Regions from separate parts of the Homo sapiens genome. Here region 1 is linked to region 2. Evidence: fine-mapped expression QTL. A gene starts in region 2. The other region holds a variant in brackets. All regions are shown on one strand. Distances are from middle to middle.

Region 1 (2,920 bases), 24 kb after region 2:
TTTGGGATTTACAGGTGTGACCCACAGTGCCTGGCCACTAATTGTATTTTTCTTTCTGTCAGCCAGTTAACTTGTTAAAAAAAAATTTGTTAATTCATTTGAAGCTGTGCCAAAATAAAGTGTTAGTTTGCTGTAGTGATATGTACAAAAGAGTACCAGTTAAAAATCACTAGTATTGGGCTGGGTGTGGTGGCTCATGCCTGTAATCCTAGCACTTTGGAAGGCTGAGGCAGGAGGACCTCTTGAGCCCAGGAGTGTGAGACCAGCCTGGGCAACATAGGGAGACCCTGTCTCTATTAAAAATAAAAATAAAATAAAATAAAAATAGGCCGGGCGTGGTGGCTCACGCCTGTAATCCCAGCACTTTGGGAGGCCAAGGTGGGTGGATTACCTGAGGTCAGGAGTTCGAGACCAGCCTGGCCAACATAGTGAAACCCCATCTCTACTAAAAATACAAAAATTAGCCGGGTGTGGTGTTACACGCCTGTAATCCCAGCTACTCAGGAGACTGAGGGAGGAGAATTGCTTGAGCCTGGGAGGCGGAGGTTGCAGTGAGCCGAGATCATGCCACTGCACTCCAGCCTGGCCGACAGAGTGAGACTCTTGTCTCAAAAAAAGAAAATAAATAAAAATAATAAATAAAATAAAATAAAAATAAGTATGTACTGGAAAAGACAAAAACGTGTATAGTTACTTAAAAGCTAAAAAGAAAGGGAATGGCTTAACAGTATACTTTATTATTGCTCACTGTAGAAGTTGTACAGTGTATACTCAATATTTTTTAAACAGTGAGTAATTCTTTTTTTTTAAGGGTATTTATAAACTATATCAACCAAAATATTAAGTAGTTGCCATATCCAGTCTTGCTGCCTTTTGTCATTTAAACCATTAAAATAGTCTGTGCCTTAAATCTCAATTTTTCAGTGTCTGGTGACAAGGAAGAGGATGCTCCTCATAGAGAAGATTACTTTGAGCCCATTTCTCCTGATCGGAATTCTGTTCCCCAGGAAGGGCAATATTCTGATGAAGGAGAAGTAGAAGAGGAACAACAAGAAGAAGGAGAAGAAGATGAAGATGATGTGGATGTAGAGGAAGAAGAGGATGAGGATGAGGATGATCGACGAACAGTAGACAGTATTCCTGAGGAGGAAGAGGAAGATGAAGAGGAAGAAGGTGAAGAGGATGAAGAAGGTGAAGGTGGGTTATGTTAGCTAGGACTTTGGGGTTTAAGTACTAGAAACTAACTCGATACAGCTTTGAAAAATGCAAAAGAATTTCTAGCAAAGATAAATGGGTTCCAAGAAACCCAGGGTCAGAATGTAGCTAGGCCTCAAGGCATGACTAGAAATGAGATTTCCATCTCTCCTCTGCTTTGTGTGTTTACTTTAATCTCCCCTGTTTAACCA[G/A]CCAGCCTAAACTGCCTGACTGTATCTCAGTTTTCTGTTTGACTTGCTACAGTATGAGTTTCCCTTTGACAGCATCAGCTTTTGCCAGGAAAACAGGGTCATGTAACAAATACATGTTGGTTAGGGATTTGGTGGCTGTTTTCAGAGTAAGGAGTGGTAAAGCTAGGTGGAATTCCTAAAGATGTCTGCCACCTAGATATTTTAGCAAATGCTACATTATTTTTAAAAATTCAAGGGAAAAATCTCAATTACACAAGTACATGTGGCAGTATGATACAGTCCTTTAATTAGGCTTTATTTTTCCTTTGAAAGCAAAAAGTGAGAGATACTCAAGCTAATTGGCTCTTAATTTGCCCAAGAAATGGCATTTAATGTTAAAGCATTTATGCAGAATAACAGATAATCTGCCTTGGCTTTTTTCTACAGATAGTAAAAATGAATGTCATTTCAGAATCATAGGGGCTCTTTTAAAAAATATCAAATAGCTAGATTATCATGTGATTTTTTTTTAACTTTCCCCATTCACAGATTATCAAATAATTATTTCTAGATTTATTGTATTTGGCAAAAGTAGTTAAATGTTAGGCAGGCAGTTTTCTTTTTTTCTTTCTTTTTTTTTTTTTTTTTTTGAGACAAAGTCTCATTCCATGACCCAGACTGGAGCGCAGTGGTGCGATCTTGTTTCACTGCAACCTTCACCTCCAGGGTTCAAGTGATTTGTCCCTCAGCCATCTGAGTAGCTGGGCTTACAGGCACGCACCCCTACGCTCAGGTAATTTTTGTATTTTTAGTAGAGATCAGGGTTTCACCATGTTGGCCAGGCTGGTCTCGGACTCCTGACCTCAAGTGATCTGCCCGGCTTGGCCTCCCAAAGTGCTGGGATTACAGGCATGAGCCACTGTGCACAGCCATATTTTAAATGGACACATTTTCTATCAAAATATAATGGAGACCTACAAAACTGTGTGATAGGTAAATGCAGAGAAATAAAAATTCTGGAATGTGAAATTGTTATAAAACGAATCTACAATGGTTTTGCTGAAAGTATTTGGTTTAACCTGATGATATTAGTTCTTACTTAACTTAAAACAACCAGTTTTTTTTGGTCTTAAAAATAATCTCTCAAGAGGACAAGCATAATTTCTTTCCTCCTGAGATAGATATTTTTGTTACTTTGAGGCATTTCTAATTATATTTCTGTGAGGAAAAGATATCTGTTACAGTTAGTTGTAAAACTGAACAGATACAGAGGAATTTGCTTAAAATGTTTGTCCAGTTTTCAGGTCTCACCCCTTTCAGGAAAAAAAGAAGTTTGTCCATAATTCTATTAGAAATTATAAAATGTTGTAAAATTGTGGGTAAGATGTTGGGGCAGAAGTTGGTTTTGTTGAGGAAATCATTTTTAATGTTTTATTAAAACTATTTCTTGTTCAATCAGAATTTATGTATTAGACAAAGATGATGTAATACTTAAATATTATTCATACTAATTTTCAGGGGATGATGGTTATGAA
Region 2 (2,920 bases):
TTCTCCTGTCTCAGCTTCCCGAGAAGTTGGGACCACAGGAACACGCCACCGCACCCGGCTTGCGATGAGAGGAGTTAAACTTGTTTTGTTTTGGTTTGTGTCTTTTTTTTTTCTTTTTGTGAATAACGGGGTCTCGCTATATTGCCCAGGCAGTTCTCCAACTCCTGGGCTCAAGCGATCCTCCCGCTTCATCCTCCCTAAGTGCTGGATTACAGGCGTGAGCCAAAGCGCCCACCAACCCTGTTTTTTGGGTTTTTCATGCTAGTAAACATAGCACTGGTTCATTCTTCGTACCTGCTATATACTATTATATAAATACGCCACTATTTACTTATTACTTCTGTCAATGGCACTTATGTTTCCTGCTCTTTTGCAACTTATAAAGTTTGCTATGAATATTCTTGTATTTGTAGATACGTGGGCGAGAATTTTCCTAGAAGAGTGGTAGGCACGTGTAATTTTACAAGCTATTTCCTAGTTGCTCTGCTAAGGGTTTGTGCCATTTAGACTACCAAACCCGCTGAGTTTATCTCGTTGCTCCAAAGCTCATCAACACCCGACAGAGAGGCTTACTTTTCATTCTGCCTCCTGTTTTATTGTTCATGGTACTTCACGTTACACAATTCCTCGAATTTTATTTCAATTACTCCTCACAATCACCCTGTAGGTTAGGTACGATTTTTCACATTTTACAGATAAGAAAACAAAGAATCTCTTCGTTGGTTGAAACAACAGTTTTTCTTCTATTTAAATCAATGTCTTACTTTTCAACCTCGCTCACTGTTATCTTTTTGCTCCCAGCGCTGGAAAAAGTGGGACATCCCCTTCGGTGGGTGTACGGGGTTGGTATCCAAAGTTGGCAGCTTTCCCTCCCCCTCCTCCATCCACCGTCTCCAAAACCCCGTCTCCGCACTTCGCCACCCGGAGACCGCTGTAGCTCTGTAACGCGGAGGAACGACAGGGTTTGAACCACTGGAGACCCCGTAGTCCCCATCTCACTTCCCTCTGCCCCCCCTCTGCGTTCTAGGGGGCGCCCTCCGCCGCGCTGGAAAAGGCGGGGCCGGCAACTCCGGGCAACAAGATGCGTTGGGATAGGCCGAGGTTTGCGGCGCTAGTGCTCTGGTCACCGGAAGTCCCTCTGTTTCTCCCTCTCCTGAGTCGCTGTCGCGGAGGCTGGAGCGCTGCCCCGGAAGTCCTCCCCCCTGTTCCCCGCCCGCGGCAAACATGGCGGTGGACTCGGCGATGGAGCTGTTATTTTTAGATACTTTTAAACACCCGAGCGCTGAGGTAAGGCTTGGCGACTTGATTCTGACGCTGCTTCTTGACTTGGGATCTTTACAAAAAAACCGTTAGGCGTTCTCCACTTTTCCTTCTGCAGATTGCTTCTTTAATTTCTCGCTTACACACAGACACCCTCCCCCGAGCTGTGTGAGCATCGCGTCTGAGGGAGGGCTGCAGCAGCCCCTTCATTTCCTTGCTTTAACTTGGGCCCTCCGTGTCTTTGGTCGAGTTGGCTTTTCTGCTTGCATGGCTTTATTTTTTATTTTTCCTGTCAGGTTTGGGCCTTGAGAAGGATCAGGGTTCTCAGGTTTACCTCAGATGGCGTTTGGGAGGGGTCTTGGTTTGCCAGTAGTGTTTGACAGTAGTGCCGGAGTCTGAGCAGTTTACGTTGGCTTCGTGGTTTCCGAATCACGATGTTTCTAAATCCTTTCTCTTTGGCCTCTTTTCTGTCGGGAATTATGTTCCCCAGTTGTGACACTTACTTGGTTTAGGATTACGGTGCTCTCCGATTTGGCCTGAAACTTTAATACTTGTCTCTCGGAGAGATTTCACACATTAGGAATGAGATGCATTCACGGAGAATACTTGCGAAGAGGGGAGAGTTGAGAGAATTATAGTTAAACTCATCAGCAGACATCTCCTTTGAGGTTGGAGGTGGAATGTTGTGGAGTAATATTTCTGTACAAAACTACTTGAGCGCCCCTTAATGTACAATTGGCCCTGCAATATGTAGATTAAACATAGCTGGTTAACTAAAGATTCCTGAAAGCAGACCAAAAATGAACTTGAATGAAGTCTACGGAGAAATTGTTAAAAAAAAAAACGAACTTCACATTTTTCTGTCTTAATGTAAGCTTAATTTAGAGAACTGTTCTTTCTTTGGAGATTATTTTTTTCCTTTTATTTTTATCAAGTGTGCTCTTGTATCAAGCTTTTTGAGGACAGATATAATTTCTCTTTTTCTCAGCTGTATCTCCAGTGCCTAGGACAGTATTAGCAAAATGTAGGTGCTCAATAAATATTTGAATGGAAAATGTTTAAAATGTTCTTTCTTTTATGAGATAGTAATGATAGTGGGTAGTGATTGTATCATAATGCTTTACTTGGCAAAATAAAAAGTTGACAGCTGTGATCTAATTTAACGAATGGTTTATAGGTTTGTAAAAGTCAAAAGTTGGAGAACTTTGAGTTAGCATTTCTTACTGACAGTTAATTTATGGTCTGACATTTAATGTGGGTCAGTTAGCACTGTTTGTTCAATGACTATATCTAACATTCTAGCCGAGATTTAGAAAACCCTCAATGGAGGCAGTAGTTGGATCAGAACAAACTTATGGTGTATAGAAATAGAGAACAGTTAAAACTGAAAGAGCCTGGCGCAGTGGCTCATGCCTGTAATCTCAACGTTTTGGGAGGCGGAAGCAGAAGGATTGCTTGAGTCCAGGAGTTTGAGACCATCCTAGGCAACACAGTGCAACCCCTGTCTCTACAAAAGAAAATTAACTAGTTGTGGTGGTTTGATCTTGTTGCCCCAGCTACTCGGGAGGCTGAAGTGGAAGGATCATTTGATCCTGGGAGTTCAAGGCTGCAGTGAGCTAAGATCACACCACTGTGCTCCAGCCTGAGCAACAGAGTGAGA

Alleles and levels. Positions count from the first base shown, and alleles are read on the strand shown. Sizes are in standard deviations (SD) of each study's normalised expression.
For the expression in iPS cells of the gene that starts at base 1,203 in region 2, allele A in region 1 goes with a lower level than allele G (large effect, 0.84 SD a copy in iPSCORE).

What was found. PIP is the estimated chance that this variant, and not a neighbour inherited with it, causes the effect. A credible set is the group of variants that fine-mapping cannot tell apart.
Region 1: its variant is the best candidate, but not a certain one, in a credible set for the expression of VIRMA in iPS cells (iPSCORE, PIP 0.54).

The regions. Positions count from the first base shown.
Region 1 is chr8:94,527,347-94,530,266 of GRCh38, reverse strand. VIRMA (vir like m6A methyltransferase associated) reads left to right here. Exons shown (of 24, transcript NM_015496.5): 7 at 925-1,197; 8 at 2,904-2,920. Among named protein-coding and RNA genes, the nearest start is that of VIRMA, 25 kb to the left of the region's middle. The variant G/A (reference allele first, on the strand shown) is at 1,407.
Region 2 is chr8:94,551,752-94,554,671 of GRCh38, reverse strand. It overlaps VIRMA (vir like m6A methyltransferase associated), which reads left to right and starts at 1,203. Exons shown (of 24, transcript NM_015496.5): 1 at 1,203-1,287. The coding sequence starts at 1,225. VIRMA-DT (VIRMA divergent transcript) reads right to left here and starts at 959. Exons shown (of 2, transcript NR_183271.1): 1 at 765-959. RefSeq lists an enhancer at 890-1,509.